Homo sapiens: one gene and its partners. The protein of the gene in region 1 interacts with the protein of each later gene in a biochemical or structural test. Each region holds a gene or a part of one and is shown in the gene's direction. Other genes may lie near its edges.

Region 1 (2,735 bases):
TGCAGTGGCTCATGCCTGTAATCCCAGCACTTTGGGAGGCTGAGGCAGGTGGATCACCTGAGGTCAGAAGTTTTTCGAGACCAGCCTGGCCAACATGGTGAAACCCTGTCTTTACTAAAAATACAAAATTAGCCGCCTGTGGTGGCATGCGCCTGTAATCCCCAGCTATTTGGGAGGCGGAGGCAAGAGAATCACTTGAACCCTGGAGGTGAGGTTGCAATGAGCCAAGATCACACTATTGTACCCCAGCCTGGGCAACAGGCGCAAAACTCCATCTCAAAAAAAGAAAAAATGTGAAGCATATGCAGATACCTTTTTTTTTTCTTTTTCTTTTTTTTTGTAGAGATGGGGTTTTATCATGTTGCCCAGGCTGGTCTGAGCTCAAAGCAATCCACCCACCTCAGCCTCCCAGAGTGCTGGGATGACAGGTGTGAGCCACTGTGCCCGGCCTGCAGATACCTTTACATAGTGAAAAAAAAAAAAAAAAAAAAAATTTTTTTTGAGATGGAGTTTGGCTCTTCTTGCTCAGGCTGGAGTGTAGTGGCGTGATCTCAGCTCACTGCAACCTCCGCCTCTGGGGTTCAAGTGATTTCTCCTGCTTCGGCCTCCCAAGTAGCTGGGATTATAGGTGCGTGCAACCACGCCCTGTTAATTTTTTTGTGTTTTTAGTAGAGATGGTGGTGTTGGCTTCTGACTTCAGATGATCTACCTGCCTCTAATGTTTCACGTAATTAGTATGTGTAATAACTTTTTATCATAATTGAACTGAAATCATATATACCTTTTGTTGTAACTATTTCAACACGTAAGTATTAAAGCAGGCTACTTAACTTTTAGCAAAAGCGGCGCCAGGAAATTGAACAAAAACTTGAAGTTCAGGCAGAAGAAGAGAGAAAGCAGGTTGAAAATGAAAGGAGAGAACTGTTTGAAGAGAGGCGTGCTAAACAGACAGAACTGCGGCTTTTGGAACAGAAAGTTGAGCTTGCGCAGCTGGTGAGTGGTAATTTGGAATTCTAAGATTGGTAATCCTTTGTGTTTACAAAAGCACTGACCCTTTACCTTTTCTTTAGCAAGAAGAATGGAATGAACATAATGCCAAAATAATTAAATATATAAGAACTAAGACAAAGCCCCATTTGTTTTATATTCCTGGAAGAATGTGTCCAGCTACCCAAAAACTAATAGAAGAGTCACAGAGAAAAATGAACGGTAAGTATGCGAAGAGGTCCATTGAATTGTTCATAGTGGGTAAGGTAATATGTTCATATGCACACGTTTGTTTTCTAAAATAATTATGATTCAGTGATTGGTTTGCTGTGTTTGCTTTTTTTTTTTAAATAAGATAATAAGATATTCTAGGCCGGGCGTGGTGGCTCACGCCTGTAATCCCAGCACTTTGGGAGGCTGAGGCAGGCAGATCATGAGGTCAGGAGATCGAGACCATCCCGGCTAACATGGTGAAACCCCGTCTCTAGTCTCTACTAAAAATACAAAAAAAATTAGCTGGGCATGGTGGTGGGCACCTGTAATTCCAGCTACTTGGCAGGCTGAGGCAGGAGAATCACTTGAACCTGGGAGGCAGAAGTTGCAGTGAGCCGAGATTACGCCACTGAACTCCAGCCTGGGCAACAGAGCTAGACTCCATCTCAAAAAAAAAAAAAAAGATACATTCTGAGATGCTGGTGAGTTTGTAGTATAGGAATATTTGTATCATGATGGAGTTTAATGTGAAAGTTATAGACAGTGCTTATGCATCTGTATTCCTTAAGCATTTGTGTAAAATTACTTTTTTTTGCATGCTATTATTGTTCTGATAAAATGCTAATAAGACAAATGTGAAAACCAACTCAGTTTCTAGATGGAAAACACATGGAAGGATAGACACTGCTAAGATGATGATTTATCTCTTTGGGATCAGAAAAATTAATATATATGATTTTATGCCAAAACTGGTTCTGTTTTACAGAAGTTTTATTTTTCATCAGACATAAAGATTGATCTGTTTTCTTCATCAGTTAGAAAATGTGTAGTTCTGTCTGCCACAATTTCTAGTATGTAGATTTCCCATGGATCTTTGCTTTTATAATTTTATGTCAGTTTGTGGTTACTTAATTGCCATAATCTTTTGTCATAACTTTACAAAAACAAATTCAGATGAAGCTTAATGACAATTTGTGACCAGTTATAAAATTATGGCTTTGAATTTTCTTAATCGGTAAATTTTACACATGTAAATTTTTATTCTTTAGCTTTATTTGAAGGTAGACGCATCGAATTTGCAGAACAAATAAATAAAATGGAGGCTAGGCCTAGAAGACAATCAATGAAGGAAAAAGAGCATCAGGTGGTGCGTAATGAAGAACAGAAGGCGGAACAAGAAGAGGGTAAGGTGGCTCAGCGAGAGGAAGAGTTGGAGGAGACAGGTAATCAGCACAATGATGTAGAAATAGAGGAAGCAGGAGAGGAAGAGGAAAAGGAAATAGCGATTGTTCATAGTGATGCAGAGAAAGAACAGGAGGAGGAAGAACAAAAACAGGAAATGGAGGTTAAGATGGAGGAGGAAACTGAGGTAAGGGAAAGTGAGAAGCAGCAGGATAGTCAGCCTGAAGAAGTTATGGATGTGCTAGAGATGGTTGAGAATGTCAAACATGTAATTGCTGACCAGGAGGTAATGGAAACTAATCGAGTTGAAAGTGTAGAACCTTCAGAAAATGAAGCTAGCAAAGAATTGGAAC
Region 2 (2,899 bases), on another chromosome or scaffold:
TTAACTCAGCAGGAATGGGAAAAGTTATGAAAGGAGGGAAAACTAAATATCATACTGCTGGTTCAGCTGTGATTAGAATTTACGTAGTCATAATGGAAACACTGAATACTGGTCTAACCAGGATTACAGTATGATGACAATGGAAAGAGGAGTGATGGGAAATGCTGGCATGTGTGGTGGTGTTGGTAACAGGACAAGCGGTCTAAGCTCTAAACTCTCATCATTTATAAGGGGAACTAATGCCTAAAACTGAAAAATCAAACAGTTGCATGTTATTTTGAGATTTTTTAAATTATTGTTAAGATAGTAGCAGTATTTACTTTTAAAACTATATTTATGTATTACTCTGGTGAAAAAGCAACTACTTTTAATAAATGGATATTTATCTTGAATGCATCCACTTCCTCCCATTCCCGTTGCCAAATTCCTCATCCCAGCCACCATCCTCTCTTGCTTGGAGTATCATAGCAGATAACTGGTCTTGATGCCTTCCCATCTCGTCTCAATTCCTGATTCATCTGACACCTGCAACCAAAGATCTTTCAAAAATAAATATTCTAGTCCAGGCACAGTGACTCATATCTATAACCCCAGCATTTTGGGAGGCCAAGGCCCGATGATCACTTGAGGCCTGGGTAACACAGCGAGTCCTCTGTTCTACAAAAAATGAAAACATTAACTAGTGTGGTGGTGTGTGACTATAGTGCTAGCTACTGGGGAGGCTGGGTGGGAGGATACGTTGAGCCCAGGAGTTGGAGGCTGCAGTGAGCTATGATCACATTGCTCTCAGTGAGACCTGGCTGACAGAGTGAGAACCTCTCTCTTAAAAATAATAAATAAATTTTATCTCAGTCCCTTGCTTAAAAGCCTTTCAAAGACTAGATCACTTGCAATGTTGTTGTCTCCTCCCAAGGGAGTCATTCCTCCCTTCCTCTTTGTTGACAGAGCCCCAGTTTGAGGGACAGCGGGATATCCACCATGCTGCTGTGAGACTCGGGCAGTTGTGACTGGTTTAGAAGTGGATACACAGGGAGAGGTCTTCTGGAAAAGGTCTTCTGGAGAGCTGAGATCAGAAGACAATCAACTGGCTTCAAATCTAAGGAGAGACAGGCACAAAATGGAAGAGATGACATGGGCACTGGTTACCTGGTAAACACAAGTGGACACTGGTGAGGGACTGGGTCATGGAGACTGCAGTAGTCTTTACCCTTTTCAGCGTTTTTCACCATGAACCCCACTGGGAGCACACAGAAGATTGGAGAAAGTTTTAATAAAATGTCTCAAGATCTGGAAGAAGACAATGGCAGCTACTGTGAAAGGATCACAGTGCTCCACCCAGACCCTTCCCTGTATCCCCTACCGGACAAAAGCCTTAGTCTGTGGAGGGAAGGACACCAAATCCTGTCACCCCCTTGGATGAAGCTCCCTTGCATCTGGGGGAATGAAACAGGAACAAAACAAAACTTTCCCTGGGCAGGGGCAGGAATACACACTGGGCCCAGAACTGGGGGAGGAACAGGAGCACTAAGGAGGACATAACCCCAAAATCAGAGACACAAAGGGCCTGACAGAGACTGAGACTTGATCAGAACAGAGAATTCCCTCCTCCCCCACCTGCCAATGGTAAGCTGACAAGCCTTGAGTTAGAAGTAAAAATGTTACAGGAGAGAGACAAGAGTATGGGAAGAAGACCCTTTCTGAGGGTCACAAAGGGAGGACCTAAAGCTGAGCAGGGAGCACACATGGAAGGAGAAAATCCCTCTGGCAGGCCAGCCTGCACCCTCAGTCCAAGGTGTCATTGGAGGAACTGGAAGCTGCTGCATTGGGGGTAACCATAGCAACAATAAACCTCAAACCTAGCCCAACTCTTTTTTTTATTTACTTTTTAGAGACAAGGTCTTGCTCTGTTGCCCAGGCTGAAGTGCAGTGGTGTGATCGCAGCTCACTGCAGCCTCAAACTCCTGGGCTCAAGCAATCCTCCTGCTTCAGCCTTTGTAGGAGATTGGTCAGGGTGGTGGGAGAAATTATAGGAAAGACACAAACCTTCTTGGAAGGCCGAGAGGTTTTGCAAAAGCTTCAGAAAGAAATTATGGCTGAAGGCAGCCAAATTCTTATCTGAAGCCTGAGAGCAAAGGGCAGATAACAGGGGAGTTGTATAGGAACTTACCTAGATAAATTTGTTTATTCCTGTGTCCAGAAACCAACCTTTGATCATTCACACACAGGACTGCTGTCTACTTGGGATGTTGACAATGTTTATTGCCCACAAATTGTGTTTGCTCCAAGCCTTTGTCATTAAATTTGTGCTAAATAAATGTGAGGGCCACCAGCTTAAGGGGACTGCTAACTCTCTTCGGCCCCTAGTGCTGGCAGTCCCCTAGCCTGCTCTCTCACTGAATATCTGTGTCTGAGTACTCCTTTCATCTGTCACTCGGCCAAAGTCTGTGGGACAGACTCGGCAGGTGATTCCCTGTGTGAGGAATGCTGCAACAGATCACGACGGAACCCTCGAAAATGAAGGTGAAGAGACTGCGCAGTCAGTAAGTCATTGGTGCCTGTTCAGCATTTCCAAGTTCAAAGGAATTGCTCAAGCTAGGGACGATCATCATGGGATGACAGTTGTCATCATGGGACAACAGTTGTCAGCTCAACAGCAACAGTATATAAAAGTAGTAAAACAAATGCTGAAAGTTAGCAGAGCCTCAGACAGGCTCAATTATGGGACCTAATGCAAACTGTTGTTTCCCATAACCCATGGCTCTCGGAAGAAGGTACACTAGACGTAGAGCTCTGGGAAGAAATTTTAACATCATGAGCAAGGGCAATGGGTCTCAGTAACATCTTTAACGTTATGGGCTTTAGTTAGGACTGCTTTGGTCCCACTCTACACAGAAAAGCC
Region 3 (2,695 bases), on another chromosome or scaffold:
TATAGGTACGGTTCCTGGAGCAGCAGAACAAGATGCTGGAGACCAAGTGGAGCCTCCTGCAGCAGCAGAAGACGGCTCGAAGCAACATGGACAACATGTTCGAGAGCTACATCAACAACCTTAGGCGGCAGCTGGAGACTCTGGGCCAGGAGAAGCTGAAGCTGGAGGCGGAGCTTGGCAACATGCAGGGGCTGGTGGAGGACTTCAAGAACAAGTGAGCAACTCCCACCCTCCACCCAACTGAAGTCACCGTGCTCTCCTCCACCCCTTGGGACCTTGGGACTAAGTCCCCATGGCCCTCTGTTGTGGGAAGTGCAGTCCTATCTAATTAGGGTGACCACCTGATGAGGTTTGCTCGGAACAGTCTGTGTTTATGCCCAGGTTCCTAGCACAATTGTTGATAGTACCCACCCCCTTTCAATCTCAACTGTCTGGATTTGAAGAACAAATTATGTGTCAATGTTGACATGGTAAACCTGAGACGGGAGAGATAGGCAGCCTGTGGGCCTCACTTTTGTACTTAACATTCTGGCCCCTCTTTAGTCTTGACCCTTGACCTCTAGCAAACTCTAGAAAGTTCTGTCTGAGGTCTCATGTCAGGCCCTGCTGTTAACACTCTCAAGGTGTCCAATCCGATGTGTATTCATGGATTTGGAGAGAGATTTCCTGCTTCCCACGGGCTAAGGGAGGGGTGAGGGTGGAGAGGGCAGCTGGGGAAGGCAGAAGGACCAGCCTTCTCATATCCTGCATCTCTGTGAACTGAATTTTCCTGATTTTCACAACGCCCCTGTCTCCCAAAAGACCAAGGGCAACCTCCCTTTTGCCTTCATCCTCTAATTGTAAGTCTTTTCCTCACAGGTATGAGGATGAGATCAATAAGCGTACAGAGATGGAGAACGAATTTGTCCTCATCAAGAAGGTGAGGGAGTCTCCCTTCTCCTATCTGGACACTGGAGGCTGGGGCTCAGAGACTCAGACCAAGAAGCTTTCTGGGTTTTGTCCCTAAATATTCCTAAGTAGTGGGACAAACTCATTTATGTAAACATTTGGGTGCACAGAAAGGTAGACAAGGATGGAGTGGTAGGTGCATTTGGACAGAACTCTTGACATCGGTGTTGGGACATGGTTCAGAAAACAGAGCAGTAGAACTGGAGATCTGGCTCTAGAAGGCTCCCTAGAGAAGGAGGTGGAAGAGGGTGTGTTGCAGGAAGCAGAGGTGAAGGTGTGTGGGCTGAGAATGCACATGTGATGGGCAGAGGCTGGGCTGGAAGATCAATCCACAAAGTGGGCAACTAGAAAGTCCTGTGACCAGGCCATTGGGTGGACCTTGGGAGCCCCTTGGTTGGGGTTGGGTGTGGAAACCCAGCTCAGGCTCCCCTCTCCTCATCCCCCAGGATGTGGATGAAGCTTACATGAACAAGGTAGAGCTGGAGTCTCGCCTGGAAGGGCTGACCGACGAGATCAACTTCCTCAGGCAGCTATATGAAGAGGTATGTTCCTGGTCGCAGGAGAGTGAGGGTCCCCCAGCCTTGTCAGCGCCTCCACCCTGAGACTCAACCAGAGGCTCCTCCCAGCCCCCAGCACACTAATAAGACAAAGGCCCACTGCTGACTAATTACAGCCACCAATATTTGCTCGGCTAGTATTTATTGGGTCTATATGTTCTGTCCCTCGCATGAGGGATGAGTCATTACCCCATTTCACAGACGAGAAAGTGGGCTCAGAGAAGTGAAATAACGTATCCAAGGTCATCATAGGGTGTGGTGATTCAGCAGCAACTCTGTCCCCAAAGCCCTTGTTCCTAATCTTTGAGCTGCATTGGATCCCTCTGTGCACCTAGTATTGGTGCACCCAGTTCCTTTTTCAGGAACTTTGCCCTCTCCCTGACCCTGACTCCCACCTGCTCCTCTCCTCTGCTGCCCCTGTCTTATACCCTAAGAAAGGCTGTTGTGGAAAAGGGGGCTCCCTGTGTGCAGAGACAGGGCCTCACCACTTGCCCTCTTCCCCCACAGGAGATCCGGGAGCTGCAGTCCCAGATCTCGGACACATCTGTGGTGCTGTCCATGGACAACAGCCGCTCCCTGGACATGGACAGCATCATTGCTGAGGTCAAGGCACAGTACGAGGATATTGCCAACCGCAGCCGGGCTGAGGCTGAGAGCATGTACCAGATCAAGTATGAGGAGCTGCAGAGCCTGGCTGGGAAGCACGGGGATGACCTGCGGCGCACAAAGACTGAGATCTCTGAGATGAACCGGAACATCAGCCGGCTCCAGGCTGAGATTGAGGGCCTCAAAGGCCAGGTATGGGCCGGGTTGGGGGTGGGAGGGGTTCCTTGGACACATCCTGGTGAGAGGAGATAATGTAGGAAGAGTGAAGTTTCTGGGAGTCGGGGAAGGAATCCTAGACCAGGGTTCAGGAGTTGGAGGGGCAGCCACAGTTCAGCTTCTCAGTCTGCTTCTGAGAAGCAAAGGGATGCAGGGAAGGTCCCTTGGGCCAGGACAGAGGTGAAAGGGGACTGGGGCAGGTATGTTGGGGCTCGTGATACATGCTCCCAAGCCTGCTTTAATCAGTCATATGCATCAGGGTAAGGTTGAGCTCTGCTGCTTTAAGGAAAGTCTAGAACCCAGGGATCTAGTCCAGTTAGGGTAGGGGGACCTTACAGTGTCGCAGGTGAGAAGGGTGTGGAGGGGAA
Region 4 (3,502 bases), on another chromosome or scaffold:
GTTAGGTTTTTCTCTGTTCTGCATGTGAATGTGGTGCTGTGGCATTTTGAAAGGACTGCAGGGGCTCATCAAACTTGTGGGTGAAAACTGAATTGTTCAGCCTGTAAAATAACAGTGATGGTCTCCACCATCTCCATTTTTTAAGAAAAAGATACGCTGGGGCGACAGTTGTACCTGTGCCTCCTCTGCGGGGTAGAGACGCCTCCAGGAGCACATGGGGACTGTCCCTATGTGTTCCTGACTGTGTGGACACTTATTGCTTACCGTGCTCCCTTGCTGCCTTTTTGTGTGCTCAGCTTTTGACTGCAAAGTAGACTTGTTGCCTTGCCAATTCGTTCACTCTTTAAACCCTTTTATCTTGTTATTAGGCTGCTCTTTGGCGTAAATTGCAATCGATTAGGGATCGTTTCTCAGAATCAAGTTAGAAGTGAGAGTTCAGATAAGTGAGGCCGCCATTGCTGCTTTGAACACCTCAGAAGGGGAGAATGGATTTATCAGGAGTGAAAAAGAAGAGCTTGCTAGGAGTCAAAGAAAATAATAAAAAGTCCAGCACTAGGTAATCCTTCTGTAAGATTTTTCTAGTGCTACTTGGGGGTGCTTACTGCTAGGGACCCGCAGAAAGGGGAAAGTTGAGAATGTTCTGCATTCTACAGTGAGTGTTCTGAGCCACAGACCACTTTGCTCTGTGGTCACCTCGGGTCTCTGTGGCCCTGCTGATGCTGATCCCCCGTTTTGGGTTGTGCTGTTTGGGTTTGGTCAGAGGAGCACGCAATCTCACACTCTTCCTCACCATCCAGGGCTCCTTCACCTACCAAACGCAAAGACCGCTCAGATGAGAAGTCCAAGGATCGCTCAAAAGATAAAGGGGCCACCAAGGAGTCGAGTGAGAAGGATCGCGGCCGGGACAAAACCCGAAAGAGGCGCAGCGCTTCCAGTGGTAGCAGCAGTACCAGGTGGGGCGGGCTGGCCTGGAGCCTGGAGAGGACCTGTGCCACAGCTACACCCCCACTCCCCACAGATGGCTCGGTTTTCTTGATTATTTACAAAGAAAACACATCCTCTGATTGTTAGTAGAGACCCTAATTTATGGCAGACTGGCTAGGTGCAGTGGTGGCTCATGCCTATAATCCCAGCACTTTGGGAGGCCGAGGCAGGAGGATTGCTTGGGGCCTGGAGTTCAAGACCAGCATGGGCAACAAAACAAGAGCTCGTCTCTACAAAAAAAAAAAAAAAAGAGTAATTTGTAAAATTAGCTGAGCGTGGTGGCATGCATCTGTAGTCCCAGCTACTTGGGAGGGCTGAGGCAAGAGGATGGCTTGAGCCCAGGAGTTTGAGGAAAATAAACAAAACTAGCCGGGTGTGGTGGTACACGCCTGTACTCCCAGCTACTCGGGAGGCTGAGTCAGGAGGATGGCTTGATTCCAGGGGGTTGAAGCTGCAGTGTGCGGAGATCATGCCACTGCACTCCAGCTTGGGTGGCAGACCCTGTCTCAAAAGAAAAAATCAACCTAGCCTGGGTCAGCATCAGCCAGCAGCTGCCTTCCCAGCCTGAGTTGGCAGTTGTGACTTTTGCCAGAGTCCTTTGCCTCCCAGCAGGAAAGGCTTCTGTATGGGTAGAAGGCAGCCCATCACCTCTGTCCTGTCCCACACACAATGTGACACCTAGGGCTCTGACTTGCTGGGGGATTGGGGGGTGATGTTTTCCCCACTGCTGAAAGCAGTGAGGCCTGGAGGCACCCGAACAGCAGGTTTCTCCTGGGGGGAGCACAACAGAATTGGAGGAGGCGTCTGTACTGTGAGACTTGGTGTGTGGTGGTTGTGACCCCTCATCTTGCCCTCAGGTCTCGGTCCAGCTCGACTTCCAGCTCAGGCTCCAGCACCAGCACTGGCTCAAGCAGTGGCTCCAGCTCTTCCTCAGCATCCAGCCGCTCAGGAAGCTCCAGCACCTCCCGCAGCTCCAGCTCTAGCAGCTCTTCTGGCTCTCCAAGTCCTTCTCGGCGCAGACACGACAACAGGAGGCGCTCCCGCTCCAAGTGAGTGCCCTGCGCCTGGGAGCTAAAGTTTACAAGCTCGGGGCTACAGATTTACCATCGAGGTTATAAAAGGGACCCAAAAGGAGTCTTTCTGTGTTAATAGGATTTCTGAGACAGGAATAATGTATGTGAACTAGCAGGAAAGTCTTCCTTATGAAAACTGTCACACAAGCAGATAAGAGCTTACTCGAAAGGCGTCTAGTACATTTTGACTTGACAGAAATTGTTTCTGGTGTTTTGTTTTCTCAATCAGATCCAAACCACCTAAAAGAGATGAAAAGGAGAGGAAAAGGCGGAGCCCATCTCCTAAGCCCACCAAAGTGCACATTGGGAGACTCACCCGGAATGTGACAAAGGTGAGGATCATGGATCTCTCCTGTGGGCAGTGGGGTGTGGACAAGCAGGCCTGTGCCTGCAGATGAACTTAGAATGTAGCCTTTTGGAGGACTGGGGTGGTGGCATGTGGTTTGAGTACAGCATTGATTCGTTCCTCTTGGTGGACCATTAATACATGTGTCTGGGAGATTTATCCCAGAACAACACTGGTACTCATCAGATGGAATGTTTTACCCTGCCGAGGTTTTAGTCATGATGTGCTGAGCTCTCTGCGTCTGACGTGACTGACTGGTAGCTGGGCGTTGGCGTGACCCTTCTTTCCCTCTAGGATCACATCATGGAGATATTTTCCACCTATGGGAAAATTAAAATGATTGACATGCCCGTGGAAAGGATGCATCCCCATCTGTCCAAAGGCTATGCGTACGTAGAGTTTGAGAATCCAGATGAAGCCGAGAAGGCGCTGAAGCACATGGATGGAGGTGGGTGACCCTGCCACATAACCCTGACCTCTCAGAGACCCGCCGCCGCGAGGGGCTTTCAAACTGATTTCCAACTGGGCTGCACTTCTTTTTGTTTGTTTGAGACAGAGTTTCACACTTGTTGCCCAGGCTGGGGTGCAGTTCCTGGACCAAACTGAGGTTTGGGCTGCTATTTCTCATGGCCCAATAACAAGATGCACATTAACTGAGTAGGTGGAGTTTTTATTTCTGCAACCAGTTGCAGGGAAAAGGCCTGGAAATTATTGCCAGACCAACTTAAAATTACAAAGTTTTTCAGAGCTTATATATTTTTTAAGCTATATGTCTATACATATGTGTACATTTATGTAAAGACATAAGTTACTGACTTTTAATCTATTAACTAAGGATTGAGTCTTGAAGACCTTCCTCTGGAGCCTCAGTAAATTGACTTAATTTAAATGGCTGTGAGTGCTGGGGTAATTACCCTTGCTTTGCCTTCTGCTAAATCACAGCAGTTTGGGGAGTTTTCTTCCCAATAAAACTGGCTTAATCCTAAATGGGTCCTGACGTATTCTTCGTTATTTTATGTTTTAAGGCCCAGGAAAGGCCTAAGCTAAACTTTTGGTGGGCTTTTCTTATATCCCAGCCTTTGTATAAGGGCCTTGGCTT

What was found.
Region 2: of the proteins of PNN (region 1) and CSNK2A1, one has a biochemical effect on the other in vitro, tested with the Homo sapiens proteins (one large-scale study listed by BioGRID and IntAct).
Region 3: the proteins of PNN (region 1) and KRT8 form a complex in vitro, tested with the Homo sapiens proteins (one study listed by BioGRID).
Region 4: the proteins of PNN (region 1) and RNPS1 form a complex in vitro, tested with the Homo sapiens proteins (3 studies listed by BioGRID and IntAct).

The regions. Positions count from the first base shown.
Region 1 is NC_000014.9:39,178,254-39,180,988, forward strand, and holds part of PNN (pinin), read left to right. Parts: intron 1-837; coding exon 838-993; intron 994-1,070; coding exon 1,071-1,209; intron 1,210-2,249; coding exon 2,250-2,735. UniProt on the Homo sapiens protein: Transcriptional activator binding to the E-box 1 core sequence of the E-cadherin promoter gene; the core-binding sequence is 5'CAGGTG-3'. Capable of reversing CTBP1-mediated transcription repression.
Region 2 is NC_000020.11:471,997-474,895, reverse strand, and holds the end of CSNK2A1 (casein kinase II subunit alpha), read left to right. Parts: 3' UTR 1-2,398; downstream 2,399-2,899. UniProt on the Homo sapiens protein: Catalytic subunit of a constitutively active serine/threonine-protein kinase complex that phosphorylates a large number of substrates containing acidic residues C-terminal to the phosphorylated serine or threonine.
Region 3 is NC_000012.12:52,899,383-52,902,077, reverse strand, and holds part of KRT8 (keratin, type II cytoskeletal 8), read left to right. Parts: intron 1-5; coding exon 6-214; intron 215-858; coding exon 859-919; intron 920-1,394; coding exon 1,395-1,490; intron 1,491-2,012; coding exon 2,013-2,303; intron 2,304-2,695. UniProt on the Homo sapiens protein: Together with KRT19, helps to link the contractile apparatus to dystrophin at the costameres of striated muscle.
Region 4 is NC_000016.10:2,261,627-2,265,128, reverse strand, and holds part of RNPS1 (RNA-binding protein with serine-rich domain 1), read left to right. Parts: intron 1-368; 5' UTR 369-485; coding exon 486-556; intron 557-797; coding exon 798-953; intron 954-1,841; coding exon 1,842-2,033; intron 2,034-2,286; coding exon 2,287-2,389; intron 2,390-2,697; coding exon 2,698-2,851; intron 2,852-3,502. UniProt on the Homo sapiens protein: Part of pre- and post-splicing multiprotein mRNP complexes. Auxiliary component of the splicing-dependent multiprotein exon junction complex (EJC) deposited at splice junction on mRNAs.